2 linked regions of the Homo sapiens genome follow. The protein of the gene in region 2 purifies or fractionates together with the protein of the main gene of each other region. This does not show direct contact. Each region holds a gene or a part of one and is shown on either strand. Other genes may lie near its edges. The genes, in order: ASB7 and C8orf34.

Region 1 (15,923 bases), on a different chromosome or scaffold from region 2:
AATGGTAAATTTGACTGTGAATTGACTGGTCTGAGAGTGGCAGCCAGTATTAAGAAGCCCCCCACTCAGCTGTGAGTTTTACTCCCAGGAACCCCACCAAGTCCTCAAGGTAAAGAGCCAGTAAAGACACTCTCATGGCTCCAGCATGAGGAGGTGAGAGTAACCCTTGTGAAATGCACCCAGAACCTTCTCCATGACAAAGGCCCGAGCCCCGGGGGGAAAGACTTTCTCAGAACCTTGTCTCAGAGCCACGAGGAAAGCCCATTCCTGAGTCCAGTCCCCTCTGGCCTCCTGTCTCGCTTATGGGGCTGGAAAAGCTACACAAGAAGAAACGTGTGAAGACGCAGCCTAGGGACCCAGGCCCACTGAAAGACTGAGAGTGAATCAGAAGACTGCAGACCACTGGCCCTCCCCACACCTTACAACTGCACCAATGGGGCTTCACCGTGTAACAGAGGATGAAAGCCGAGAAAGCTGCAGGATGCACCCTCTCTCCAACGAGGCTGCTTAGGGAAGCCCAAAGCCAAGACACGGGACAGAAACAAGGGCACTGCAGGGACCGGAACCCTCTGGCACCTACAGCTGCAATAAACATGACTCACAGCCCAATTCACAGCCAGATTAACAAAAAGCCTCAGGTCAAAGGACTGTTTACCTCAGTTTCTGTTACCCACCATGTCTAGCTTCAGTAAAAAAATCACAAAACATACTAAGAGGCAAGAAAAAAACACAGTCTGGAGAGACAAAATAAGCATCAGAACAAGACTTAAATATGACACAGGTGTTGGAATTACCAGCCGGGGAATTTAAAACAACCATTAATTATTAAGATTAATGAAATTATTAGATGGTAATTGTAAAATCCTGTCTTAATGCCTTAATAAGCAGCAGCTCTGAGGAGGTGAAATTCTCAACACAGTACAGATGTGGGTGTCATTGGCAAAGGGAAACAGGAGTGACAAGGTGACCCCCCAACAGTGCTGTACCTTGTCTGCTGGGGCAAACCAACCTTTGACTCTGCTTTGCCTTTTGAACCTTTCCCTCCTACGTAAAGGGTAAAAAGCCTCACAGTGAAAGGAATTCCCAGGTAGAAAGCACAGTATGGCCTCTTTTCTGCAAATAATCTAGCCAATCAGACACCGCCTCCTTTCCAGGGGGCATTCTCCAGGAGGGAGCCATCCTGTTTACTGCTATCTTACCTTCCACTGGACTGTGTTACTGAAAGTTTCCCCCAATTTCCATACCATTTGCACAAGGAACTGCAGCTACTATTTCTTTCTTTCTTTCTTTCTTTTGAGATGGAGTCTCACTCTGTCACCCAGGCTGGAGTGCAGTGGCGTGATCTCGGCTCACTGTAACTGCAGCCTCCCGGGTTCAAGAGATTCTCCTGCCTCAGCCTCGTGAGTAGCGGGGACAATAGGTGCGTGCCACCACACCCAGCTAATTTTTGTGTTTTTAGTAGAGACGGGGTTTCACCATGTTGGACGGGCTGGTCTCTAACTCCCGGCCTCAAGTGATCCACCTGCTTTGGCCTCCCAAAGTGCTGGGATGACAGGTGTCAGCCACTGCACCTGGCCCTATCTCTTTTCTTTTCAATCCTTTCCTTTCACCTGCAGAAGTGGCTCGGTGAGAACAGTACTTACCTTGCCAGGTCTATAATTTGTGCTTAAGCATTCTGAGGTGGGGTTTTCCCCAAAAACATATATTTTCTCCTACTTCTCTTTGAACAAAATTGCAGTTGTGCCGATCATTAAAGCCTCACTTTTATATGTGTGTACACGTGAATACGTATATGATTAAACGTTCCTGCTAGTCACTGCCTGAGGTTCAGCTTTCTCATGGAATCTCTTTCTAAAAGATTTCATATTCTGAATAACTCCCTGGTCCATACATTGACTATGGGAGTTTACCCTGTGAGGAAGAAGATAAGAAAAAAAACTCAGTAACTCACTATCTGATTCTTCAGGATGGGTGGTATTATTTACTCCTCAAGCTTTACTGAGGAACAATCTTTTCACAAGGTTATAGTACTGTATCTGTTTAATAACATCTGCTTGTGTCACCCTTTTCCTGTTCATAACCACTAAATTTCTCTTTTGAATGGGGCAAACATTCCCACAACCTTCTGCTCTTCACCTGAGGCTGGAGAACTGTAACCAATGCCCACATGCCAGAGCCTCCAGGATCCTCTTAGTTCTGGAGTGGTGTGTGTGCAAACATTATGTACACATTATTCCACTTTGTGTGCACGAGCCTGAGAATGAGGGCCTCCTAAGTTTTGTGCCCTGGCCACTTCACTTGCCTCAACCTAGTCCTGGCCCAGGCACAAGGGGCTATTTACCTCCAAAATGTCCACTGCTGTCTGTCCTCACTACCATTTATTTCTCTTTTTTTTCTTCCTCCTTCCTTCCCCTCCTTCCTTCCTTCCTCCTTCCTTCCTTCCTCCTTCCTTCTTCCTTTCCTTCCTTTCTTCCTTTCTTTCCCTTTCCCCTTTCCTTTCCTCTCTTTCCTCTTTTTTTTCTTGAGAGAGTTTCACTCTTGTCACCCAGGCCGGAGTGCAGTAGCACAATCTTGGCTCACTGCAACCTCTGCCTCCTGGGTTCAAGCGATTCTCCTGCCTCAGCCTTCCAAGTAACTGGGATTACAGGCATGTGCCACCATGCCCGGCTAATTTTTGTATTTTTAGTAGAGATGGGGTTTCACCACGTTGGCCAGGCTGGCCTCAAACTCCTGACCTCAGGTGACCCACCCGCCTCAGCCTCCCAAAGTGCTAGGATTACAGGCATGAGCCACTGCGCCCAGCCGTCACTACCATTTCTACTTGACATCGGTCACACCTTCACTGTTCTCTCTTTAATTTATTCATTCCATTCTTTTTTTTTTTTTTTTGGCTACAAGTAAAAAACCAAAAACTGGCTTCTTATAAACACTGCCAACTAAGCAGGACGCAGCTTTCCTCCCACAGGTGGCGCTCATTATTCAGGCAGGTGCTATGGCTCCTCTTAGCTGTGTTTATCATTCCTGGGCACAGAGAAGTGGCTCCTCCATGGATGGGCCCTGCTGCGCTCCTGACGTCCTGGAAGGGGGAGGTTCTGAGGTCTGAATGCTGGACAGCGGGCTGGCTGTAGGGAACAGCAACAGCAGCTCTTCATGGCCTCTCCCCCTACTCAGCACTAACAAGTCACAAGCAGATGTTAGTTTATTACCAAGCCACGGGTGCGCTCTGTTTTTTTTTTTTTTTTGCACTATATAGATCAGAGTTTTTACGGCAATTTTTCCAAAAGGCCAGAGGAGTTTTTAAATTCTGGTATTATAATTTTTTTGGTCTCTTCCAATTTAAATAATCTGTTTCTAGGCAAAACAGTGTGATGAAGAGTAAAATGTCCCTGAATGAAGACCACCATGTGGCCCCTCTGCTGTCCTTATACCTCGGCAGTCTGCGATCTCCAATCATAAGCCAACAGCATGATGCCTGGGGCTGCGGTGCCCACAGCACGCGGGCTAGAAGAAGCTCTCAGCTTTGATTTAGTGCTCCCTGAACCAACCAACCTTCTTTCAAGCTGCTTTTCATGAGAAAGCTCAGTCCAGAGCATCAGCCACAGCTGCTCCTTCTAGCCCATATTGTTCACCAGGAAAAGAAAACCTATTTAGAGCCAAAGAACACACAGGTGAAGCAGAAACACCAAATTTGCTTTTGGCAGGAAACACCACTGGAGAGTCAAGAAATACTAAATTATGTTGAGGCACCTGAAGACAAAGGACAACTGGAGCCTTAACAGACGGAGGACCCTGCACTCAGGAAAGCAGCCTGTGCTTCCTCAGTCCCCACCCCTCGCTGTGCGCAGTCAGCCAGACTGCCAGGACTACTGAGGACCTCCTAGGCGCACAGCTCTGCTCCTCGTACAGTGGAGAACCTAAGCACAGACAGAGGCAGTCCCCACTGACATTTCTATCTGCTCAAATTTTAAAGTGCATGTGAGTCTTTAACTCAACATTCCTGCTGTCCAACAGCACTGCTAGGGGCAGCTCTGAGGGCTCAGGGACACACGGCAGCCGCCCACGTGCTTGTCCTGCCCAGCGGCTCCTCTCGGCCACGTGGCTGCGTGCCTCCATGTACAGACTCTGGACAGTTGTATACAGGGTTGAAACTGGGAGGCTTGAGTTGAATATGAATCTAAAGATTTGCTCTGTTGGTGGCAAGCCAGTCCTCGCTGTTAATCCCCCCTCACTTTATTAGTTACACACTTCACCTTGAAAAACAATTACAAAGAACAAGAACATTTTAAGTGTTAAGTGCATTATAAATATTAACTCATTTAATCCTCATAACAAGCCTGTATTATCTTAATTTGAAGGTGAGGACACTAAGGCACAGAGAGATTAGGCGACCTGCCCAAGGTCACAGCTAACATGGGATAGAGTTAAGGCTCAAACTCTTGCAGTCTAGCTCTAGTCTATGCCATTAACCACTGAACAAAGTATTTTAAAAAAGGGGGCTGAGGCATTTAAGTGAGTATATAACATGCCTTCCTAAGGGCGGCCACACTCATCATAACTAAGTCTCTAATGTAGAAGTTGAGAGAACAACAACAAGGCAAGCAGGACTGCAGCACTGCGGGTATCACGTCTCCCAACTGTGGCGACTTCTGTGTGTCTCAGAAGCTTTCTGCAATGGAACACCCACCAGTCAGCCCCAGATACCTCTCCCAAGGCAGGCAGATCTGTGTGGACCAACAAAGGAACCACCAGGCACTTGTGGCCATTTAAACTTAAATCGCAATTAAATAAAATTGAAATTTCAGTTCCTCAGTGGCAACGGTCACATTAATAGGTGCTCAGCAGCCACATGGGACCAGTGGCTACTATACTGGACAGCAAGGAGAGACCATTTCCAACATCACAGAAACTGGTACTGGCCAGCACTAAGTAGACTAAGCAGTGTGATTTTTTCTTACGCTTTAGTCTGAAAACATTAGTGATAATAATTGCATCTTTTCTTCCATGAATCTGCAAAATTCAAATTACATTTTGTTTCTTCATAAAGCAAATGTGTACTCCAAAGGCCCGCTCCAAGGGGTAGAGTGGGTTACTTACAAGCAGGTCAGGTAGAGCCCTTGCCCTCTAGTAGCTGGTACCCAGGATGTTAATATGTCCTCTTGTATAATAATGACCGAAGGCTCAAAACCAGTGAGGAAAAAGGAACTCATTAAAAAGTTCAGCAGACAGCAAAATCCATTTTGTTTACAGATTTTAGCTTCATGGTGGACATTAAGCATGAGACACACATTCAACTGGTCACGTGGAAGCTTGACAAGAGAGGATGGCTAAGTACACACAAGCTGATACCCCATCAGAGGAACAACTAGGACGCACGCGTTACTACACAAAGTGGGCCAGACACTTCCAGGCTTTAAAAAAAGCACCCACACAAAAACGTTCAAATACAATGGAAGCCATGTGGTCCAGGGACAGTGGTGCCAAACTTCCCACTGCAAATATTTTCTTACAACAATTTCTAGCATCCTTAACTTCCACGAGTGGTATCCCTAAATACACAGCACCACTGCTCCATTTCATGTGGGCTCTCATGAAGCAGAAAAGCCACAATTAAAACGTGAACAACTTAGCAATAAAGCACAAATTCTAGGATATTTTCACAGGTAAGGAATCTAAGATCCAAAATTCCCCCTCTAACTCCTCAACTTGCAGTCAATGGAAGCCAGGTAAGATTATCCTTATGACCAACAGGAATTGCCTTGTTCTAACACAGATCTTTGTTCATTTAAAAAAAATTCTCCTCTCTGTCCTTCTCTCCATTCCTTCCCTCACTCTTACTGTCTACCCCTATTACATTTAGAAACACAATTGAATTTTTATGAAATCTTGTGATACAGTCAAAGTTTTTTTTTTATTTCAGAAGAATGAGGCATCGCTTACCAAGCAGTGGTTATAGGAATGATTAATATCTAGTCATCTTAAGTTGCAAAAACACATTAAGCTCCTCAGAAGATGCAAATTTTTAAAAAATGCAATAAAGTAATAATTATATTACATACTTGTGACTTCTTGTAAGAAATCCAAACATGGTCGACTACTTCCAGAAATACTTATTGAAACAGCCAATGGGGTCTGTCCTTCATAGTTCCGTGTGTTCGTGTCTGCTCCGTAATTATATAACATCCGTGCACACAGCACATCATCCCTAAGGGCAGATAAGTGTAAAGGAGTCTGTCCGTCTTCTAAGCGACCCAAGTTTGTGTCTGCCCCTCTCTGAAGGAACATTCGGCAATAAGAGTGATTGCTTTTGATCACGGCGTATCGCAACAGGAAACCATTCTGAATGTCGATGTTGGCATTGTGGTCCAGGAGGATTTTCACACAGCTTGACCTCTCTCGGATAATGGCGAGCTGAAGCGGTGTGGTACCTTTATCACTGAGTGGGTCAACCTCAGCCTTGAACTCCAGGAGGAGCCGGACAAATGAGTCCCTGCCGTAGTGGGCAGCCACATGGAGGGGAGTCCAGCCGTCATTGCTTTTTGCATTAATGATGTCGCTCCTGTATTCAGATTCTAACATCAAGCGTGCAATGCGGGCCCGGCCATGCATGGCTGCATAGTGAAGAGCCGTGAAGCCTCCGATTAAGTCTTTAACTGTAGGATCAGCTGGAGTTAAAACCAAAATGAAAGTATTAGCAGACTCCAAGACAAAACAACAAACATTACCATGGCACAGCAAACTGTGGCCAATTCTCATATAAAATGTGAAGCAACCAAACACTGTAATGAATATCAAGTACGTTTTTCCTCAGTTTAATTCAAGTCTGGTTTTAATGGAAAATAAATTTTGTAGAATGTTATCACGTCTGGGTTAATGAAAGGAGAAAGACAAAGTGTTTAAAAAGATATACACAAAAAACACGGAGTACAGATCACCACATCCCCTGTCTTTGCTAATTTAACCAACTGCCTCTGGCTACTCAACTCCTTCATCTCTGCACTGTTTCATGTTTCTCTTCTGTTTTGAACTTTTTGTTTTATTTTCTCTTGTGCTTCTTCTCGGTCTTAAAGAGAAGCATGTGTAGCAACATCTGCTGCTCTAAATTACAGATACACTATGCTCTGGCACACCGTGTTGTTTTAGGGTATATTAAGTAATAAAAAAAAGTTTTTCTGTGGTCTGTAAAAATTCCAAAGCATCTCAGATATATGTCAAGTAATCTTGACAAATTGTTTTTTCACAAGATAGAAGTCTATTCTGAATTCTTAGTTTTACACGAACTTTGGAGTTTATAAGAATTAAGCAATGCATTATGTGAATAACCTCAGCATTGTAAAAATATTTTCTAAAACAGTTCCAAAAACCTCTCCTAATTGACTGATCTCTGGGGAAGGAAAAACAACTATAATAATTTATCTGCTATGTGACTCAAGTCACAGTCTTTTGTCACTGGCCTCAGATCTTTCATTAAGCCAAAGGTTGGTTCTTGATGGCGTTCACCCCATGGCATCCCTGGCTGGGGGCAGAAGACGGACGAGGACTGGTTATGCCGGGCACCTCCTAGAAGTCAGCAATTCCATGTAAAAGATCAATTGATCAGACCTAACTACCCAGGATGAAAATGCTCTCTTGTAAAAGTCACCTTAATTTTTGGCTTGTTAATAAAAGAAAAAAATCATTAATGTTTTACACACACACCTACACATACATACACACACACAGCCTCCACAGGTGAGTGAAAACTCACGTATTGTTTAATAAACGTTATTTAGGTCTAGAACATATTATGACAAATGGTTCTCTTAGAAAAATCTGAGGCAGAAAACTATATGTAAAATAACAATACTGTGGAAAGTATTTCAGTGAAGGAGTTGCTAACAAAACCTATACAAAATAAGATGTTTTTAGGTAAGCCATATCATGTAGATTTCTAAAAACATTTACTGTAAAGTGTCAGTACACAATGGTAGTATTAGTTGTATCTATTTAGGGGAAATAAGGGCATTATATCTACCTTGGTCTTAACTGAAAGAAAAATATACAGTATCTGTTTACCACAGGACTTAAATTTAAGTAGGGTAAGAACATTTTAACACAGCATTTTGCTGCCATCTGCTGGTAAGGCATGAGCATGACACTAATGTTTCCACCGGGCAGATACTGCTGAGCCCTTAAGTCACTCAAGCCGGTTCCAGGTGCATCGCTTACCAGAAGTTCAAAGTCAGGCGTGAAATCTACAAGATGCCCTCCCATTCAAATGAAACAAAACATCTTGCCAGAGGTCATTTCTAATCTATACCTGGCCAGTCAACTGCTGGCAGACATTCCCTCTTAATCTGCAAGTGAAATTTAAGAATACCTTCTTTTCACTTCTCCCACCCTTCAGCCACCATCCTTATTTGTATCCTATACTCGTTCTATTTGACAGTAAAATTAAAATTATGTTACAAAACACTGCACTTGCATCTTTGGTTTCCATTTCAGGTCTCTTTCAGGTTCTATGTACATTTTGAAGCTACACTGAGCTAAGGAAAAACAGAGATTAACACACACAACAATGACCTGCATAGTCTCTGTTAAAATCAAATGGGAGATTAGAAGCAATGAAAATGCAAACAAATGTAATTTAAAGATTATTAGCCCATGAAATAAGGTAAGAAAAATATCTCATTTGTAATAGCAACATAAACTACAAAACGCCTAGACAGAAATTCAGTAAGAAATGGACAAGACGTGAAAACATTAAGTGAACTCATGTCACTCTGTATCCACTCAAATGTCCTTTTATCAAAAAAAGAAAAGCCTTCCCTAAACATTTCATCTAAAACAGCAACCCCACTGAACTTATTACTTTGTCCCCTTAGCAAACATTTTCTCCCCAGGTGGAACTTATTTTAAATAAGCTGTAGCATAATCTCAACAAGTTCATTTAAATTTACGAGAAAAAAATTTAATGTATATAAACAGAAGCAAAGAAACATTACCTATGAATATGAGGGGATTTTTTTTTTTCTAACAGCTTTATTGAGGTAAAATGCATTCACTTTAAGGGTACAGATGATGAGCTTTGATAACTGTATACGAGTATATAACCCACCACCCTATTTAAAATATAGAACATTCCATCATCTCAAAAAGTTCCTTCATCTCTCTTTAGCCCTTCCCAGACTCTGGGTCCCAGGCAAACCACTGGTCAAAAAAGTTTTGTCATTTCTGGAAATTCATATTAATAGAATCATATGTAGACTTCTGTGTTTGACTTACTTCACTTTGCATGATGTTTCCGCCATACTTCCATGTTGTATCGACAGTTCACTCTTTTGTATTGCTGGATAGTACTGTATACTATATAGTTTTTTTAATCAATTGATGAGAAGATGGGCATTTCAGTTCTTACCAATTTGAGCCTATTTGAATAACACTATCATGAATTAATATATGAGAGAGAGACAGACAGAGAGAGAGAGAGACAGAGAGAGAAGGAGAGGGGGACAGAGTGTTTTCATCTCACTTGGGTTCAATACCCACGAGAGACTTGCTGGGTCGTATGTGAAATGCACATGAAACTTTCCTAAGTTCCTTTTTAAATGGCTACACCATCTTACATTCTCATCAGCAATGGATGAGTTCAGATTGTTCTACATCTTGGTATCATTAGTCATTTTAATTTCACTCATTCTAGAGAGGTAAAATCGTGGCTTATTGTGCTTTTAATTTCTATTTCCCTAATAACTAGTTATACTGAACGTATTCATATACTGTTTTGTGAATTGTCTGTTCACCTCCTTTATCCATTTTTATTGGTTGTCTCCTCATTAATGAGTTGTACAAATTCTGTGTATATTCTGGATACAAGCCTTTTGTCAGATGTGTCTTGTAAATATTTTCTCCTAGTTTGTTGCGTGCTTTTTCATTTTCTGTATTATGTTTTGAAGAGCAAAACTCTTAATTTTGATGAAGCCCATTATTTATTTTACAGTTTGTAGTTTTGTATCCTATTTTAAAAATCTTTGCTCAATGCATTGTCACAAAGATTTTTTTTCTTCTAGGAATTTTGCACTTTTAACTCTCACATTTAGATCAATAGCCCATAATTAATTTTTCTGTGTGGTATAACGTAAGTTCAAGGTTCAGTACTCCCCACAAAGATATCTACTTGTTCCAGCACAATTTGTTAAAAGGACTCTTAATGATTTACCCTAGTGTCACTGCTGAAAATCAATTTACCATAAAAGTGTCGCTCTATTTCTTAATTCTGTTTTGTTCCATTGACCTAAAAGTCTCTCCATACACCAATCCCACACTGTCTTGACTACTGTAGCTTATAGTAAGTTTTAATAGCAGGTAGCTTAAGTTCTCTAGCCTTCTTTAAAATTATTAATATTTGGGATAATAAATTTTAGAATCAGCTTGTCAAGTCCTCAAACAAGCCTGCTGGAATTCTGATTAGAACGCCACTGACTCTAAGGATGGCAATCTCTCCAAAATGATCCAAACAATATTGATTCTTCCAAACCATAAACATGGGATAGTTCTCTATATAGGTCTTAATTCTCTTCAGCAATGTTTTATAGCTTATATACGTCATGCATATCTTTTGTTAAATTTATTATTAAATATTTTAAACTTTGTTGCTATTATAATGAGCTAAAATTCCATTTTCCAAATGATGACTGCTGATAGAAATAAAATTGATTTTTATACACTGACTTGTGTATTCTATAACCTACCCAAAATCACTTTTAGTTCTAGAACACATTTGTAGTTTTCTTGCCAGGGTCTACATGCACAATTATGTTCTCTGCAAATACAGTTTGACTTCTTTCTTTCCAATTCATGACCCTTGATTACTGCTCTGCCCTCATTCCACTGGTTAGAACATACAGTAGGATGCTGAATAAAGTGGCAAAAGCACAGACCCTTCCCTTGGTTCCTGATCTTAAAAGGAAAGAATTCAGTAGTTCACCACCCGGGAAGCTGTAGCTTTTCATTGCTTTGGAAATCACCTTCTGCTTCTGGTTTCCCATCTTTCTCATGAAGGTATTTAAGACTGTTCCATTTTCTGAATCTACTGAAATGATTGTTAGGTATTTATGTTTTATTCTAATGTGACAAATTACTCAGCCTATTGATTTTCAGATGTTAAACAAATATTGTACTCCTGGAGTAAATACTACTTGGGCATAATATTTTTTTTTATACACCAATAGACTGGATTTGCCAATATTTCGTTAGGAATTTTGGTATCTATTGTCATGAAAAATATTGGCTTATAGTTTTCTTCCAAGGTCTTTGTTTGGTCTGTATCAGGGCTACACAAGCCTCATACAACAAGCTTGGAAGTGTTCCCTCCTCTGTCAAAAAATTTGTGTAGAATCCTTATTTACGTCCTTTAATATCTGAAATAATTCAATGAGAAGCCAGCTGGACCTAAAGTCTTCTCAGTGAAAAGTTTTAGTTATGAGCTAGACTTCTTAAATTGATATAAGGCTATTAATCTATTTTTTCCTTGGGTCAGTTTTAGCATCAGTTTTGTGCATCAGGAAATCTGTCCATTTTTCCTAATGGCACAAAGGTGCCCATTATACTCCTAATCTTTTTGATGTCTAGAGGATCTGTAGTGACATATCCCTTCCACTCTTTTTAAATTTTTTATTGGTATGTGATATTTTACATGTTTACTGGGTATATGTGAGTATCTATTACATGCACAGAATGTGTAACGATCAAGTCAGGGTATCTGCGTTATCCATCATCACCTTGAGCATTTATCACTTCTATGAGCTGAGAACATTTCAAGTCTTCTCTTGCAGCTACTCTGAGATACATAATACATTGTTGTTAACTATAGTCACCCTATTCTGCTATTGAACGTCAGAACTTCTTTCTTCTAACAAATGGAACCCATTAACCAACCTCTCTTTATCTCCTCCTACCACCAACATACCCTTCCCAGCCTCTGTTTTCTATCTTCTATTCTCTACTATCGAGAGGCCAACTTTTTTTAGCTTCCACATGAGTGAGAACATGATATTTGTCTTTCTGTGCTTGACTTATTTCACCTCACATGATGACCTCGTCATCTATGTGGCTGCAAATGATCTCATTTTTTATGGCCAAATTGTATTCTATTGTGTGTATATATACCACAATGGACACTTAGGTTGATTCCAAATCTTTGCTATTGTGAATAGTGCTGTAATAAACACACAAGTGCAGGTATTCCTTTGATATACTGATTTCTTTTCTTTTGGATACTCAGTAGTGGGACTGCTGGATTATATAGTATTTCTATTTTTAGTTTATTTGAGAAATGTCCAGTTTTCCACAGAGGTTGTACTAATTTACAGTCCCACCGATGCCGTATTAAGAGTTTTCTTTGACTGCTGGATTACATAGTATTTCTATTTTTAGTTTATTTGAGAAATGTCCAGTTTTCCACAGTGGTTATACTAATTGACAGTCCCACCAACACCGTATTAAGAGTTTTCTTTTCTCTGCCTCTTTGCTGGCATCTGTTATTTTTTGTCTTTTTAACAGTAGCCATTACAACTGGGATAAGATATCTCATTGTGGTTTTGATTTGCATTTCCCTGATGATTAATGATGTTGAGCAATTTTTCACATGCCTGCTGGACATCTGCATGTCTTCTTTCGAGAAATGTCTATTTGTGTCCTTTGCTCACTTTTGTTTTTTTGAGATGTAATTTCGCTCTTGTTGCCCAGGCTGCAGTGCAGTGGCATGATCTCGGCTACCTGCAACCTCTGCCTCCCAGGTTCAAGCGATTCTCCTGCCTCAGCCTCCCAAGTAGCTGGGATTACAGGCATCCACCACCACGTGGGCCCAGCTAATTTTTGTATTTTTAGTAGAGATGGGGTTTTACCATGTTGGCCAAGCTGGTCTTGAACTCCTGGCCTCAGGTGATCCACCCACCTCAGCCTCCCAAAGTGCTGGGATTACAGGTGTGAGCCACCACGCCTGACCTGCCCACTTTTTAATGGGATTATTTGTTGTTTTTACTGTTGAGTTCCTTGTATATTCTGGATATTACAATGTCCCTTGTCAGATGCCAGTTTGCAAATATTTTCTCCCATTCAACAGGCTGTCTCTTCATTCTATTAATTGTTTCTTTTGCTGTATAAAGGTTTTTCAGTTTCTAAAATATAGTCCCATTTGCCTATGTTTTAGTTGTCTGTGTTTCTGAGGTCTTAGCCATAAAATCTCTGCCTAAAGCAATGTCCTGAAGTGTTTTTCCTGTTTTCTTCCAGTAGATGTGACGTTCCAGGTCTTATGTTTATGTTTTTAATCCATCTTATGTTGTTTTGCATATGGTGAGAGACAGGGGTCTGGTTTTATTCTTCTGCACATGGATATCCAGTTTTCCCAGCCTGAAGAGGGTGTCCTTTCCTCAAAGTATGTTCTTGTTATCTTTGTCGAAAATCAGTTTACTAAAAATACGTAGATTTCTGGATTCTCTGTTCCATTGGTCTGTGTCTGTTTTTAGGTCAATACCATGCTGTTTTGGTTACTAGAGCCTTGTAGTATATTTTGAAGTCCGGTAGTGTGATGCCTCCAGCTTTGTCCCTTTTGCTCAGGATTGCTTCAGCTATTTGGGCTCTTTTTTGGTTCCATATGAATTTTAGGATTGTTTTTTCTAACTTTGAAAAACTGATGTTGGTGTTTTGATAGCAGTTGCATTGAATCTACCAATTGCCTTGGATAGAAGAGTCATTTTAACAATATTAATTCTTCCAATCCATGAGCATGGGATGTCTTTCCATTTGTTTGTGTCCTCTTCGATTTGTTTCATCAGTGCTTTGTAGTTTTCCTTGTAGAGATCTCTCATCTTCTTGGTTAAATTTATTCCTAGGTTGTTGGGTTTTTTTTCTTTTTTCTTTTTGTAGCTATTATAAATGAGATACCTTCATGATTTCTTTTTTTGCCTGTTTCATTACTGGTATATAGAAATGCTACTGATTTTTGTATGTTGATTTTGTATCCTACAACTGTACTGATTTATCCAATCTAAGAGTTTTTTGGGTAAAGTCTTTAGGTTTTTCTAAATATAAGATCATATCATCAGCAAAGAGGAACAATTTGACTTTCTCTTTTCCAATTTGAATGCCTTTTATTCCTTTCTCTTGCTTGACTGCTCTGGCTAGGATTTCCAATACTACAGAGAATCTCTCTTCCACTCTTGATATTGGTTATGTATCTTTTCTCCTGTTTTCTTTTTTTCACCATTCTAGACAAAGATTCATCAATTTTATTGATCTTTTCAAAGAATCCTTATTTGTTTTTTAGTTCCATCTATCTTCTCTATCATTTGCCCATTTTCAATTCCACTGATTTCAATTATTCTGTTTATTATTTCATTCTTGTTTTTACTTTGGGATTACTGGATTCTAGAAGTATACAGAAACTGTTTCAATATAGCTCCTTTCTTTGTGCAATTACTGTCATATATTTCATCTTTACATGTTATAAGCCCAACAATTTAATTTCACAATTATTGTCTTTTATTTTAAAAGATGAAATGATGATAAAAATACATTTACACTGTCTGTGGCAAAAGTACTCAAAGGTAAAAGAATAGCATTTCCTAATAACTACTGCCAATGATAGACTTTCAGCTTTTCTTCTACACATTTTTAAAAAATTATACATAGCTGTAACCATACTCTAATTACTGAATTGCTTCTCTATATTTGGGCATTGAGAATGCCTACGTTTGAAAAATTATATACAATGAAAGGTAGGCTTTTTTTAAAACTACATCATGACATTCGGAAAGGTGAAACTTTTGTATAGAAAGTATTTCCTGCTTTTAAGACTGATTCCTCTGGCCACGTTAAAAGAATTATATTTAATCTAATCATTAATTAAACTTAATTTAAATAAAGAGTTAACATAAATTCTATATTGGCAAGATAAACTACTGTTTTTAAGACTTCAATACATACTGCTAAACTGCTTTCCAAATGTACTCTCATAAATTCCCATCAGTGTGCCAGTGTCACATTTGGAATTATCATTTGCAAAATCTTTCATTTTTGAAATGCTAAAAATATTTTTCACCGTTCTTCTGTGCATTTCTTTGATTACCCCCCTATCTCCTACTTTTTTTCATGTGTTTCACCAAAAGGATTTTACCTACTTTATCGAGAGGTTTTCTCAGGTTCCTCTGGGGATTTGCTTTATAGACTTAACTTCTGGAGCTTTAGCCAACTGCCCGTGGGCCAATTTGCATAAACACTGAATCTGAAGATGAATAAATGCACTAAGACATTGTCTCTTCCAACGTTATTTTCTTGAAATGTCCAGCATGGTCTTGGAGTTTTTAGAAGACTCAAAATTGGAAAATGAAGATAATAATGAGTTTGTTACAATTTCCACCCTTATAATAGAGACTCTTCCATCACGATTCTAACAGTACACTAACCTGGTCTGAGAGGCTACCAGGGTTTGTACAGACGTGCTATTATATGCATCCCATAAAGACTACCAGGGTTTGTACAGACGTGCTATTATATGCATCCCATAAAGACTACCAGGGTTTGTACAGATGTGCTATTATATGCATCCCATTTGTGCTTAAAACCTCAAGTATTTTCGGACCACAGTAAAACCCTAAGTTTTCATCATTTTGACGCAGGATGCTTGAAGGTAAAGCAGCAAAGTACCACTTGTATGCACAGGCCAGTGTTCCACTGTCAGCCCTTCATATCCACGTGTTCCCTAGCACAGTGTCAACAAACCACAGATGAAAAATAACTTGATTAAAAAATTAGAAATAATACAACAATACATTTTTAAAAAACAATACAGTATTACAACTACTTACCCAGCATTCACAGTGTGTTAGGTATTATAAGTAATTGAAAAATGATTTTAAAGTACACAGGAAGATATGCGTAGGTTATAT
Region 2 (15,923 bases):
AAGCAAATCAGATGTAACCTGGGAGAAAAAAAGAAAAGAAAGGAAAAGTTTTGTCCCTTTTCCCTGACATCTCTTGATATATTTCTTATATTATTAGATGTGGATTCTCTGTATTGTGAGAAGATAAGAGAATGCATTGTAATACAAAGGTAGTGTATAGCCTGTATAAGCTTTGGAAAATGTTTATTTCTTTGAGGCAGGCTTGGAATTCTGCACATTCCATTCCCACTGTAAGTTGGAATTCATGGGGGCCAATCAAGTTGTACGTTTCTACAAGCCCAATACCATCTTTTCCATGCTACAGGAAAACCCCAGAGTGTCTATGACTATAAATCAGGGAGACAAGTAACCTTGTATTAGGTTGGTGCAAAAGTAATTGCCATTAAAAGTAGTGGCAAAACTGCAATTTCTTTTGCACCCACCTAATAACAAAAACAAATGCATATACATATAATAGAAAACCAGATATATCATTTTACCTTTTGATACTTTTTAAATAAAAAGCTTGAATATTTCAAATTGTTTAAAATAATTGGTTCAGTCAAACTACATGAAAAATTTGAACATGATAATGTTCTTTTATAATGAGTGTACTGTCTTTAAATAAGTGAATAGGCCAAGATTCATTCTAACACATTAGGGAAAATTCAAGTTCTATGCCATGATCTTTTCAGAAAGTTGTCTGTGATCTTTAAAAGAAGGGAAGAAATTAGAAGTAAGACTTAACTATCAAGAAGATGGTACTTGTTGAAATAATTTCTAACTATGTGGAGCATTTCTAACTGAGATATTTAGGATAAGACTAAGCATTTAAACCCCTAAGGCCAAACTTCTATGGTCTTACTTTATAACATGCACGAAACTTACATGCTAAAGACAGGAGAGGCGTTGGTATTAAAATGATATGAATTATAGTAACAAGTCTTTTCTCTATCTCTAATTCTTCTTTTTTTTTTCTTTCTGAGACAAAATCTCACTCTATTGCCCAGGCTGGAGTGCAGCGGTGCCATCATAGCTCACCACAGCCTCAACCTCCTGGGCTCAAGTGATCCTCTCCCCTCAGCTTCCCAAGTAGCTGGGACTACAGACGTACACCACCACACCTAAGTAATTTTTTTTAAATTTTTAATAAATATGAAGTCTCTCTATGCTGCCCAGGCTGGTCTTGAACTCCTGAACTCAAGCAATCATCCCACCTATGCCTCCTAAAGTGTTAGGATTACAGGTGTGAGCCAGCATGCCTGGAACTAGCTCTAATTCTTTATCAGATATACTGAGTACCTTCCATGCATGATTTTACTTCATCCTCACGAAACCCTAAGATATGAGTATTGTTATTAATTCCATTTTTCTGATAATGGACTGATACTTGAAGGAAAAAAGTTACTTTCCCTAAATCATATAATTAGGGTCGGTGGCGAAGCTTCAAACAAGGGCTATCTGAACACAAAGGTCACGCTATTATTACTTCTAATATTATGCTATTTTCTCTTCCATATAATTAATTTCCTGCAATAAATTTAAACTTTGTTTTACCATATTAATAATACTCTATTTTAAATTCTTTCTTTCTTTTTTTTTTGTTTGAGACGCAGTCTCGCTCTGTCGCCCAGGCTGGAGTGCAGTGGCGTGATCTTGGCTCACTGCAACCTCCGCCTCCTGGGTTCAAGCAATTCTCCTGCTTCAGCTTCCCGAGTAGCTGGGATTACAGGCATGCACCACCACGCCTGGCTAATTTTTTTGCGTTTATGGTGGAGACAGGGTTTCACCATACTAGCCAGGCTCGTCTCAAACTCTGACCTTGTGATCTGCCTGCCTTGGCCTCCCAAAGTGCTGGGATTACTGGAGTGAGCCACCGCACCTGGCCTCTATTTTAAACTCTTTAAATACAGAGTCCTCTCAAAATGTCTGTAATCAAAAAGTAACTATGACAGCATATGAGAGCACTTAAGAAGTGAAAAAGCGCTAGTCCAACAAATCCTCTTTTGACAATTCTTGAAAAAGTTTTAAAGAAATTAAAACTATATATGAAATTTTTTCTGTCATTAAGTGCCAGAGATAAAAAATAAATACATAAAATTGTATATGAAATTTTAAGTTCATACTAGATATAAGAAATACATCATTTATTAAAATAAGACCTTCAACTGTCTTTTGCAGACATAAACCAAAAAATTGAAAAGTAAAATAAAATCACTAGATTTTGATTTACCTTAATTAGAACACTTATATTTTTTCCATTTTGTTCTTTAGTGCTCCTCTATTTAATAGTTTCAGAGCAATTTAAAAAAATATTTAATATTGTTATGATTATTTTCTCTCTGAAATTGTTGAACATAAGACATTTTTAAAAGAAAAATCATAAGATTTTCATTTCAAAAATAATTCACACATAGGACTAGTTTACCATTTGGGATTTTGAAAATGTGTTTATAATATTCTTTTTAAAAATACTTGAATAAAACCTCATAAAAGCTGCCATTTTTTCAGATGTTGAAAATAATTGACAAGTTTTGTGCCCACTCTTCCGTTAACATGTATTTAGTATTAAACTTCAATAATTTTTTTTTTTTTTAGACGGAGTTTCACTCTGTTGCCCAGGGTGGAGTGCAATGGCATAATCTCGGCTCACTGCAACCTCTGCCTCCCAGGTTCTAGTGATTCTCCTGCCTCAGTGTCCCGAGTAGCTGGGATTACGGGCATGTGCCACCATGCCTGGCTAATTTTTTGTATTTTTAGTAGAGATGGGATTTTTGCCATGTTGGCCAGGCTGGTCTCGAACTCCTGACCTCAGGTGATCCACCTGCCTCGGCCTCCCAAAGTGCTGGGATTACAGGCGTGAGCCACCGTGCTTGGCCAACTACAATAATTTTAAGGTTTCTATTTAGAGATATTTTAATAAGTTGTTGGGAATATTGTGATATATGAAAATTTAAATGGATTCCTATAGTTATACATTTGATTTTTAATAAGTTCATCAAGAGTTTTAATGCTTCTTTAATATCTGTTGGTTTTGATGTTAAAATGCAACCAAGTGCTGAATTAATTACACTTCTTTGCACATTTTCAACCACGAATAAAACTACAATAAAGTTATGATTTTGCACTGCTTTCAAATGACTTTTAAATAGAGTACAAAATTTAAACTCAGTCAAGTTAGATGAAAATTACTACTATGGCTAAACAAATGATCTTGAAATATAGCATCACCATTTTATAAAGCATTTGAAGTGGGCAAGTTTATTTCAAAAGCAACAATACCTTAATAATATGTAACACTGCTTTTCAATTTAGTTTAGGTTTGTTTACACAGTGAATTAATGTGAAACCATCAAATTGTGCTGCTTCAAACATTTTCATATTTATAAATATAATTCAAGAAATTTTTAAGAACAGATTTTCAACACTTTTATAATTTTATTTACATAAGCATGTAAACATATAGTACAAATTTCTAATTTCTCTATATCTCCTTGTCTTTCCACCTTATTCCTACCCTAAGCCCAACTTTTGCTACTAGAGATACATATGTAGGCAGAAAACATTTTTCTTTTCCTCCTAGGAATTATACATTTACACAGAGGAAAATGAAAGACAGTAGAATAATTTTCTATACATCCTTAACCAAATCATCTATCCTTGCTTTAATATCCAAGTTAAAAATGAAAAATTTAGTGCTTTGTGTTGGTATAGCCAACATTTTGGCTTGCAAAAACATATAGCTTTACCTCTTATCTTTTCAAGCCTTTAATTTTATTGTGTTGTGGGAAACATACATTTTTGCTGTTTTTAGGCAACTTCCCAAAGCTAAAGAAAGCTTTTTTTTTCCTTTGTCTGTAGCATACAAAATGTATCTGGGTTCAAGGATATAAATTTATCTAGAAGAAAAGTTTTGTATAGAAATTCTATTGTCTTTTGTCAAATATTCCTGTTAGCCATGACAAAAAGAAAAAAAAAAAGCACTTTAGAGAAATATCTCATTTTTTTTTTATCCTCTCAACATCCCTGTTGAGTAGGAAGGTCATATGTAGTCACCAGCACTTTACAATTAATTACGTGTACCTGAGGGGACAATATTAGCAAGAGGTAGCATGAGGTCTAGACCTGGGTCATTAGAGTATAAGCTGGTGCTTTGGCCATATACCACTAACACCACCACATATGCCAATCACACTGTGTCTCATGCCTTTACAAGGTACTCAGTGAAAAGCTATAACATAAACAAGAAAAAATATATTATTCTATGTTATTGGTATGTGTCAAAAAACGTGGAACTTATTCAAAGTGATAAATAGGTTTTAAACAACTCTTTTCACAAATATATTGGAAATGGCTGTGTCTTATAAAGAAATTTTCCAATAGGTGTATAATTGAGATAAAAGGCATTTGTCAATAATTTGTTTATGGGTTTAGATTTCATTTTCAAACTATTGACGTTTATTCTACTATGTTGATTTATTTTTACCACTGGAAATTTTTTACAAGAAAATAAAGCAATATTTCTTACTAAACACCATAAAAGTAAATCACATAGGATGATGTATATATTTTGGTGGCATGCAGATTTGTATTTATTTAAAGGATAATCTCTACGATTTGCAAATGTTTTGATATTTTGCTGAAAAAAACAAAAGTGAAGAATGAAGGGTATGAAAAACAAAACAATTCTAAACACAAAACAAGTAAATCTAGAAGGTAATAAAAGGGACTGAGATACATTTAGCAAAAGCAAAGAAAGAATCCTAAATAAAGCTTTTTAACATGATAATATGATGAAAATGAATCATAAAGAAACCATTTTCTCAAGTCTATGCTAGAATTACTTTATAATTTATGTGATTTTTTCTACTCTAAGCAGTTCATTTTTCAAGTGCTCCTATAAAATATATCAGGAAGGAGGACATAAGAAAGTGATACAAACTGCATTAGCCAAAGCAAGACTTGATCTCTTTAAAAAAAAAAAGAAAATAAAAAGAAAGTCCTTAGATTTCTTATGAATAATCTTTTTTATGAAGAACATTCATTTTAAGGTGATAACTTTTCTGTTATCCTGATTACTTCCAATGAGCAATATTCTAAAGATCAAAAGAAACAAAGAGATAAAAAGAGTTTCTATGTATAGTCCCTTGTGTTTTAGATTATTTTACATACTTTATTAAAATATAGGTACATGGATAGGTAGGTAGATTTTTCTTTAAACATTTAGTGCTCCCTCTCTCTCCTTTTTAAAGAAATTTTACATCATTCAGTGACAGCATTCATTTCTCATTAGGCAAAATGCTTGTTCTTATTTTGCCAATGTGGGCACATTCTTCTTTAAGAAGCCTCCAATTTAAAAAACAGAACAAAGAGTGAATATTTACTTTATAAAAGTTGATCAGAATATAAGAAAGAAAGTGTCAAATGATCACCTTAATGTATTAACTCCTTCTAGTAAATTGTTTTTATTTTACAAAATTTGGTAACATATTGAGGTAATAGAAACTCAATGACTATATTCAGCAAAGAATCCCAGTATAATTACACTTGTTCTTGATTATTCATTTTAAAACAGATAAAATGTACTTGCAATCACCTTGTCGCAATGTAATTTTACTTTTGATTTTGGATTTTATATAATTATAGGCTAAGACCAAAAAGTATAAAACATAATTAATATTGTTTTCCTTTTTAGCATCTTTGGAATTTGATTTTTATATACTTGCCTCATCATCAATTCTGAGAAAGCATAATACATTTTTTATAAACTTTTACAAATTGTATGGGATAGTAATACCCATATTAGAATGTATAAGAAAAGTAGTTATATCTTTCAAATAATACTGATATTTTTAAATGAATATCAATCATAAAGAGAATAATCAAAAACGTGACTGAAACTCGCCTTTCAACAAGAATAAGATTAAAATGCATCTAATGTAAGAAAAATGGGCACATGTTTCCAAGGTGAAATATCTTTTAAACTAACGAAGTTCCTCAAATGTTCTCTGATAATTAATGTAGTAAAATATACAGGGATTTTTATAGATCTTTTCTTTTTCTTCTTTTTTTTTTTTTTTTTTTTTTTTTGAGATAGGGTCTCCCTCTGTCACCCAGGCTGGACTACAGTGGCATGACCACAGCTCACTGCAGACTCGACCTTCCAGACTCAGTCCAGTAGCTGGGACTATAGGTGCATGCAACCACACTTGACTAATATAAGTATTTTTTGTAGAGACGAGGTTTCGTCATGTTTCCCAGGCTGGTCTCAAATTCCTGGGCTCAAGCAATCCACCCACCTCAGCCTCCCAAAGTGCTGGTATTACAGGCTTAAGCCACTATGCCCAGCAATAAATCTCTCATTCTACCATTGTAACTTGTCATTCCATTTTTGAAAATCATTTATTTTATTAATTTTAAAAAATATGTGAAGATTTTCTATAACCTTTTTTTCATAGTGGTCATTAATTGCCAGAACGATTACTAAAATATTTGTACTAAAATATTTGAAAATATCTTATATTTGAGCATGAGATGACTTGGCAGATACTTTACTCAGTATCTTCTATAATTACAGCACCAATTTCAGAGGTGCTTAAAATGATTATATCTTAAAAATTCACAAGTTTGGCTGTTTTATTATCTGACAAGTGTTAATTCCATATTAAGTTACTTTTGCAATGTGAATTTATAAGGAGCATTTAAAGCAATCTTACAGAAAATATTTGATCTACTTAAAAATTACAGGTGTTGTACTATAATATTTTCATATGCCTAAAACATTTAGAAAAGAAATCCACAAATATATAATTAAACAACTGTGAATAATTAAATATTAATCAGTATATATTAACAATGCTAGTTTCCTTAATAAACAAAACAAGAGTCAATAGTTATTACTAACTTCTACTAGTTCAACTAAAAGGATTTTTTCCCTTCAAATCAACCAATTTTATTGAAGAATAATCCTTTTTTATATTAATGTCAACTAACAATTATACCTTTCACTTATTTATCACTTCACAAGGTTTACAGAGTGCTTTCCATGCATAATAAATATTTTTCAGCCAGTTATATCTTGGTATAGATAACAAAGACAAGTTAAACATTTACAAACACATAAGCTATAGCACACACATCTACAAAATGTAGATTCAAAAAGATTTTAAATACCAGATGTCTCTATTGCATCTTACAATGATTCTATATAAACTCTATAAAATTAGATTTCACATAAATTTCCAAGAACTTAGCATTTATATTTTTCTGAAATAGACACAATCACATACATTTTGCTGGAATCCATTTCAAAAACAAGAAATTGAATATGGCATTATTTTAAGATAAAGTCCAGTGGACTTGTAACATTCCAAGCTATAAGAGGATAATCTCATGACCTAGAGACCAACATTATTACACTGCTTGCCACCTGTGCTGAGATATGTGGAATTACATGAAGAAAGTCCAAACCTTCAACTATCTCTTATTATTAAACTTGCTCAGACCACAGGCTAAAATGTCTAAAAAAAGAATTAATGAGGACTAGTTATTAATTGCTCATCATTAGATAGTCTCCAAGACTCAATCCTCGGTCTTCAGCTTGGGAGACTAGAACCTTCAGTCAGGGCAGCTGAGATCTAGGGAGTACCAGCATGGAGTGGACAACTGCATCTCCTGAAAGAAACCCTGGATCTCAGTTGCCCCTTCCCTGTTACTGTCCAAAGCAGAGGAACCATTTACAGGTATAGTTATGGAGCACAATCGCAAAACAGCCCATACCTACGTGAGCAAACCTACAATGACCACACCCCACCTGCTGAGCTTACATCTATTTGCTTTTCAGGACTAGCCAGAGTAATCGGCTTCTCTAGGAAACATTCCTGGGTCACTGTCCCTTACCTCTGCTTTAGGTGTTACCCCTATACACAACTGTGTGCTTCATCCAATTAGCGCAGTTAGCACAGGTAGTGACGTATTGTATCTTGAACATTACAATGTAAAATTCCTTCAAACACAGATCACAATGATTTTATTTTTATGTTCCCAGACCCCAGCCAAGTGCTTAGCATAGAGTAAGTGCTCAGTAAATGTTTGTTGAATGAAGCTACCACTGCCACATAGGGCACGTCTGCCATGTTAATGATTTGGAGGTGAGGAAAAGACCCAATTGGAAGGGACCAACAGCATGTAATGAAAACGCCATGATACAATCTCCTTAATGTTAGCATGAATGCAGTTTTTACAGCATCAGAAAACATCTTTCAAACCTGTCACCATTGACCAAATAACACCTTTGTAGGCCTATGCAAAAATGATAAGCAATATATCATTTTTTATAATGATAGTATTTTACTGCCATAAACACTTAAAACCAAGGAATCTCATTTTTAACAAAAACTTCAGAAAATGGCCTATATTTTTCTGAGATTCCATATTCTATATGTAAAACGTGTTTAAGGCTTTCAAATAATTATATTATTTATTCTCTTTCTAAATAAAATACAACAGCATATTGTTATAAAGTATTTGAAAATCATACTCTTTATTTGTAGCAGAATAATTGATACCACTGACTTCAAAACTCATTGTTTTATATGTGGATCACTCTGAAATAACATTTCATTTTCTTTCTTCAGAAAAATGATGTTCCAAAGAGAAGTTCAGTTTAAAAATTTATATGAAGAGATTTCTGATGAAGCAAAAACATACATATACTACATTAAAAAATATAAAAAGATATCCTACATATACAAGATTAATAAGGTTTCATGAAAGTAACAGGCCTGAAGAAACTTTGAAATCTCTGCAAACTTTCCCGTCATTTACGGAAAACATAAAACCTGAATTTACTATCTGCCCCTTTCAACTTTATTCTATTTTTCTAAAGCATCCTCAAAATAAAAGGTAGACATTTTGGAGTGAGGGCTGAAATATGTACTTTGGGTATATTTTATAGACAATAGATGTAAACAAGGCAATTATTATCAGAGAATAAAGCAGACAGACTTGAATTTTGATCACAGTTGCACACAGAATAACGCTTCATTACGTAGTCAGAAGGTAAAGTGCAGCATACACAAAGCACAAAATACAGTCTAATAAATATTCATATGCTTAGGGTATTTCAATTTAGTTCTTACATGCAACTTTATGTGAGTCTAATGTAAATAAAATATGTACTAAATGGTTTCTTTTCCCTAAGACAAGGCTATTCAAAACTTTTAAAATCTCTTAATCACCACACGTTTTTTTTACAATGTCAAAGAAGAAAATGAGAAATTATTAATTTTTAAAATTACCCAGCAATTCCATTGCATCATCTTCATTATCAATATCTTCTTCTGTTACAGATGGGGTAGGGCTGTGGATGGACTCAAAAGAATCTTGAGAGAGCATTGCGGCCAGGAGTTTCTTATGTTGCTGTTGCTGCTGTTTTAATCCTTTGTTCTTAGGCTCCATCTTTAAGCTGAAGAAATATTTAAATGTTAATTAGCTGTGATAAGTAAAGAAAATCTACAAATAAATTTCCATTTGGTTATTTTATTACACACGTATGTGGACATGTTACTAAAGTTTTCCCCAAGGATAATGGAAATATCATCTTTCTTGGACACCCATCCGTACCTCACTAAGGAATTCCCAAGTGAGTATGGGGAAACTGAAATTTGGCTCACTTAAGAGGGAAGGTGCTAATTTACTCCTACCTATTGTTGCCATGTGGAAATTAAAGTCTACTCGATGAATTTTCTGATTTTTAAAGAAGAGCTAGAAGGTCCAGATTATTAGTCCCTGATTTACAAAGCAAATGCATGTTAAGGAAAACACATTCGATGGAATAAATATTTTATAATATTACATTAAGATGTTTTAAAATACTCAACTTTAATTTCTTTTGCATATGTGTATATAGTTGTCTGAACACCATTTGTTAAAAAGACTATTCTCTCCCTCATTGAATTGTCTTGCTTTTATTTATAGTGCTTTTGAGTCTATCTCTTTGTATAGTTTTATTAGTGACTGATCTTCCTGTTACAATATGTATATGTATATTGTACCACATTCAGCAGACTGTTTTATTAATATCAACATTTACCACTTGGAGTAAAGTATAGATACCTTACTTCCATTTTGGACCCTTTAGTTTCCCTACTTTTAAATATTATTGAGTATCAGATGGTGCTATAACTTTTGTTTCAATAGTTAAATAGCATTTCTAAAGCTCGTGAGGATAGTCCATTGTATATACCCATATTTCTGTTCTTTCTGTTTTTCTGTGTTCCTTCCTGATGTTTTGAAGTAGATTCTTTCTTGCCGCTGAGGTAGATTCATTGTCGCCACTCAGTTCTCCTAGCATCTTTAGTGGAGAAAGGGAGTCTCAAGTCTGGCAGGGAAGGAAAGCATGTCCCCTAACCATGTATTGCCAGTGAGAATCGTCAATTCCCCTGGCCTATGTCTCTGGCTTCTCTTGGTGTTGTTGGTGTAGCTACTGTTCAATCAGGGGAAGAAATAACCTACATGGGCCACCTTCTCTTGCTACTTTGGGAGTGAAGAAATGCTCCTTATTCTGTTAAGTGTGGAATTGCAAGGAGCCCTGCTGCTAAGCTGTTCCTCCAGCCCTCAGGTTCCTAACCATTCCACCTTCCTATGTACCCTTTTCACAGTTCTCTTTTGGTTCCTCTTGCTTTATTTCAGGGTTTATAGGGGTATGTATGAGGGACAGCAGAAAGTAATTAGTCCATGCCATCTTGTCCAAGCAGAAGTGACACGACTTGTTAATTAGAAAGGGCAACTGATACCTTTACACTGGAAAAATCTGGTGGACATCACCTTAACCAAGTGATCAAACTTAGCATCACCAATAATACTGGACAAATTGACATTATGTACTTCCTAATATGATATAATAAGAAAGTACATCCCATCAACTATGTAGAATTTTTTTCCAAAAATATCTAATCTGAATTTAATCAGAGAACAATCAGACAAACGCAGATTGGGAGAAATTTTTGAAGATAACTGGCCCATAGTCTTCAAGAATGTAAATGTCATAAAAAAGAAACAAAAGGCAGAGGACTGTTGTAGATTATAGAAGACTAAAAAGATTTGACAACTAGATTCCACACATGATCTTTTATTAGATGCTAGATAAAAAATAAATAAACAAGTATACAAAAATCCATAAAGGACTTTACTGGAAAAATTGAAGACATTTGAAAGTGGACTCTACATTAGATAACTTTATGGTGGGATTGGTTTGATATGATGATTATATTATGGGTACATAAGAAAATATCTTTATTCCTAAGAAATACACGCTGAAGAATAACAGAATTAACATTTTATAAAATCTGTAATTTATTTTCAGATGGTTCAGCAAAAAATAGAATATGATAATATGATAGATATATAGATAATAGGTCATAGATAAAGATGGTAAAATGTTCATTGGTGAATACAGGTGGAGGGTATGTGGATCTTGATATTACTACTTTTAAATATTCTGTGGTTTGAAACTTTTAAAAGTAAAAAGGTGAGGGAAAAAATAAGAACAAATATATGAAAACATACACATGTTGGCAATATTTATTTTAATTTTATCTTCTATCCCAACTTAGGTTCCCAACAGAAATAGGATTGTTGCTAAGATGTCGTAAAAATGCACCCCTTTTTAAGTAATTTTTTAATTTGACTAACCCTCGATATCATTCCAAATACTTAAAGAAAATCATGTTTACTCTTTAATAGTGGAAATAAAACATAAATATTCACTTGAAAATGGAAGGAAGAAGTTTATTTAGCTTCAGTCTCTTGCCATGGCATCTGTCCTCTGCATCATTGCATTACGTGTCTTCTAAACTGAGAAACAATGTAACAATGTTAAAGTCTTCCTTGACCAACTTTATTCATTGAGAAGTAAACAAAACCAATCAAAACAAAATTTTAATTTGGATTTCTTAGCTGATAGATCTAACATGTTAAGCTGAATTAACACCTAAATTATTTTATCTAAATTAAATTCATTTAAAATAACAATATTCATGTATTATTTTAGCCCCATTCGCTTTTGATTTTGACTACTAGAAGGGATATAGATACTGCTATGAATGACAATTGAACATAGTTTATTTACAAGATGAATAATTTGGGGCAAGTTACTTCTTTCTTTTCCTCAGTTTTGTTATCCATAATGCAGCTTACTGTAGTACTTCCAATATATTTAATAATCCAGTGGTTGGACTATTAAAAAGGGTTAATAAATGTAGAATAGTGCCTGGCAAATAGCTCTACTTAGGTCTGTTTAATAAATCAATTAAATTTTCCTTCATAACTTTAAATTTTATATTGTAAATTTAACAAAATGTAATAGAATATTATACTTTATAATATTCTATGCTTACCAAATATATTTTATGTTTTCATGTAAAAAGACAGTTACGGCTTTAAGGCGATTTTCCCCCTTAGGAGTTAAATAATAATTCACAAAGTATAACTGTTTGAAGCAGATGTTATATGTACATTCTGACTACTGCTTGTGCTTACTATGTACCTAAATATATATATAGGATGGTTAGATATTAAATATTTTATGCAAAATTAATATATACTGTATCTTGAAATGTTATTTTATATGAATAAGCATAAATCAAATGTCAGTTTATAAAACATAATATAATTATTTCTAAAAGGCAAACATATTATCAAAACATGCCTACTTACAGAAAAAGAGTGTTATCTAACCAATTGTAAGCTTAGAATTTTATTCCAGGTCCATAACTGTTTTTCTAGAATCCTTGAGGCTGGATGTGTTCTGTTGCATAAACTCTATATTATATAATACATTCCAGAGGGTCTGTGGCCTCACCCTGTTATCAAATACTTCAGTATTTCTACATCATTATGTATCAGCATTCCCACTGAGTGGGATAAATAAAGAATCTGCAGGGTTCAGATCAGGTTTTGCTATAATGAATTATGAAAACAACTTTCATTGTCAGAGCATTTTGAATTTCACAATTACAGATACGGATTGCGAGGAAAATATTTGAATAAATAACTGAGAGATGAAATCTCAAACACTGCTGTTTGGTCAAGTAAGATGGGGGCTGAGACTTGAGGTTGGAATTTCAGAAGGCAGAGGTCATTTGACTGACACTGGGTAACTTGGACAAGAGGTCGTCCTGTGACATTGACAAGGTTGCTTTCAATAGGTGGTGGGAATAACATTCTATTTGGAAAAGATTGCAAAATGAGGGGTCAGTGCACACAAGTAAACTACTTTGAGGAGCTTCTTTGTAAATTGAATGAAAGACAGAGAACAATTAATTGCTGGGGCCAGGGAGGCTTCACTTTTTAGAGAGAAGTTCCATCGTACTTTCATGCTGAGGGGAATGAGCTAGGAGAAAGGAATGGTGCAGGGAATGAAGAGAAGTGATGAGCTTACATGGGTGATTTAGAGTAAGGACCTAGCGCTGAGTGGAGGAGCTTGCCCTAGGCGGAGCATGAGTGACTCACCCATAGCCATAGGGAAGAGCAGAAAACCTGAGCACAGATAAGCCAGGTGCACAGAGAGTCTGCTGGAGGAAGCTTATGGAGGTTTTCTTTATGACTGCAGCTATTTTCTCTTTGAAATGGGAAACAGAGTCATTAGTTAAGAATAAGGATGATGGGGAAAAGTTTTGGAGATTGGGGGAGAGCAGGAAAAATGTGAAGTCATCATTGAGGAGAGTGAATATGTGAATGGCAGAGGCAGGTGCAGCTGCATTGCCGGGTAGCACCAGTGTGCCCCTGGAGTTTGGTGGTCGTGAATTCAGTGATACTGGCCAGTGTGGCCATGTGTCCTTCTCTAGCCTAGGTTGGTTCAGCCACAGAATAGGGAAACAATTAGATGTAAACATGGTAGAGTTTTTCCAGGAGAGTAAAACAGGAAAAGAGGAGCAGAAGACTTGAGGGCATATCCAAGGGACAAATTACCATGATGGGGCAGAGATAAACCTGACTAAGGAGAAAAATTAAGAACAAGGTGGGTGAGAAACAAGAAAACTTTGGCAGTCTCAGTGTTTTTGGGGTCCCAGTTAAAGCTGAGTGTCAGAGGCAATAAACTAGAAAGACGACAGGTGGTAGTCAGAAAGTGAGATGCCTGAAATTGACATCATGGATTTGCAGATAATGAGAATGAGAAGGTCTAGGATATGACAGAGGGAGTGATGGGGAGGTAGGGTGGAATTCAAGATACATGGCGAAGAGTAGGTAAAGAAAGTGAGAGGCCAGGTTTGGGGAAGGATCACCGATGATGTTGACGCTGACTTAACCAATGCAGCAAAGCTACTGGGGAGAGTTACAGGAGCCGGACATTTGAATGTTCAGAGAAAGGGGAATGGCTGGCAGTTAGCAAATTATTGCTAGAAGATGATGTGGGAAATTAACACACTGGGAAATTCAGAACAAGATGCAGAACTGGGGATTGTTTTAGGGAGGAGACAGCAAGATCTGGAAGCAGCAGACGATAAAGGATGACACCACCCTCTTCTCCAGCCCCACAGCCTGTGGATCCTACAACCATTAAGAAAAAATAGCTGCCTGCTGCAGGGATGCAGGAGTGTTCATACAGATGGTGTTGAGTGAGATCAGAACAAGAGGGGTTTTTCTAAGAGCACTTAGGGTTCCGAGGCCCCTCTTTCCCAGATTTGAACCTAAAGCTTAATAACAGGATTCTTAGAACAGCTTTCTGAAGAGAGACTGTAGAGCAAAGGATTTAAATGCACAGAATTTGAAGCAAGGCAGCCTAGCTCAGTGACCTAACGGCTATCAATCTTGGGATGGGGATGTAGCCACTCTGGGACTTAGTTTCCTCATTAATTTTTTATTTTTTATTTTTTTGAGACGGAGTCTTGCTCTGTCACCCAGCCTGGAGTGCAGTGGCACGATCTCAGCTCACTGCAAGCTCCACCTCCCGGGTTCACGCCATTCTCCTGCCTCAGCCTCCCGAGTAGCTGGGACTACAGGCGCCCACCACCACGCCCGGCTAATTTTTTGTATTTTTAGTAGAGACGGGGTTTCACCGTGTTAGCCAGGATGGTTTCGACCTCCTGACCTTGTGATCCGCCCGCCTCGGCCTCCCAGAGCGCTTACAGGCGTGAGCCACTGCGCCGGGCCTCTCATTTCTGAATAATAGTGTTTTCATAAGGATGAAATGGGTTACAATATGCAAAGCACATAGAGCAGCCTCTAAGTGGTAATTAATATCATTATGTGTTCAAAGAACACAAAGGGGGCATCCTGGACATGTGAACGCCTCCTCTTGAGCCATAATATCCCACATCAAGAGAAAGTGTACAAAAAGAGGCCTGATGAGAAAGACTAGCAGTTAATATTTCAATTTGGTGTTCATATACTCAAGGAATCCATTTTGCTTTGGTTTAGAAGAGTGATTTCTAAACCAGGATCAAATGGAAAGGAACAGTTTAAAGAGGTCACCCCACAGAACCTCCCCTGTGGGCCTGCCTGAGCAGGTGGAGCCTCCTGAGCCTTCATTCTGACCACTGGCCCTCCTCCTCCTGACTCCTGTCTCACTCGTGGGCCTGAGCTTGCTCCGTTTAGTTTCACGCTTTCTTTCTGAGCATAGGTTGGTAAACATTTAGTTTGATCTGATTCCATGCGTTCTTTTTGGTGAAAAATTGGATGATTTCTTGGACTATCTCCTAAGCTTGTTGAGTTCACCCTCACAGTCTTGTAGGCTGAACCTGTGTCCTTTTTTTTTTTTTTGACTCCAGTCATTAATTAAAGGGTGCCCTTTGCACTAAGGCCTTGGAAGTTGAAGAGGTCATGAAAAGTTTCACACTCAATTGTTGCATATAGATTTTTATGCGTAAGAGCTATTTTTAAGAATATATAAATATGATGTTTTAGAATCAGTTTAGCAGACACTTAAGTGCTTGTCATATACC

The links.
Region 1: the proteins of C8orf34 (region 2) and ASB7 purify together in Homo sapiens (affinity purification with mass spectrometry; 3 studies listed by BioGRID and IntAct, with this or other methods). This does not show direct contact.

What each region holds. Positions count from the first base shown.
Region 1 is NC_000015.10:100,620,176-100,636,098, reverse strand, and holds part of ASB7 (ankyrin repeat and SOCS box protein 7), read right to left. Parts: intron 6,663-15,923; coding exon 6,057-6,662; coding exon of another isoform or gene 6,049-6,056; exon of another isoform or gene 5,890-6,048; intron 1-5,889. UniProt on the Homo sapiens protein: Probable substrate-recognition component of a SCF-like ECS (Elongin-Cullin-SOCS-box protein) E3 ubiquitin-protein ligase complex which mediates the ubiquitination and subsequent proteasomal degradation of target proteins.
Region 2 is NC_000008.11:68,526,505-68,542,427, reverse strand, and holds part of C8orf34 (uncharacterized protein C8orf34), read right to left. Parts: intron 11,836-15,923; exon of another isoform or gene 11,749-11,835; intron 9,446-11,748; coding exon 9,279-9,445; coding exon of another isoform or gene 9,262-9,278; exon of another isoform or gene 3,220-9,261; intron 1-3,219.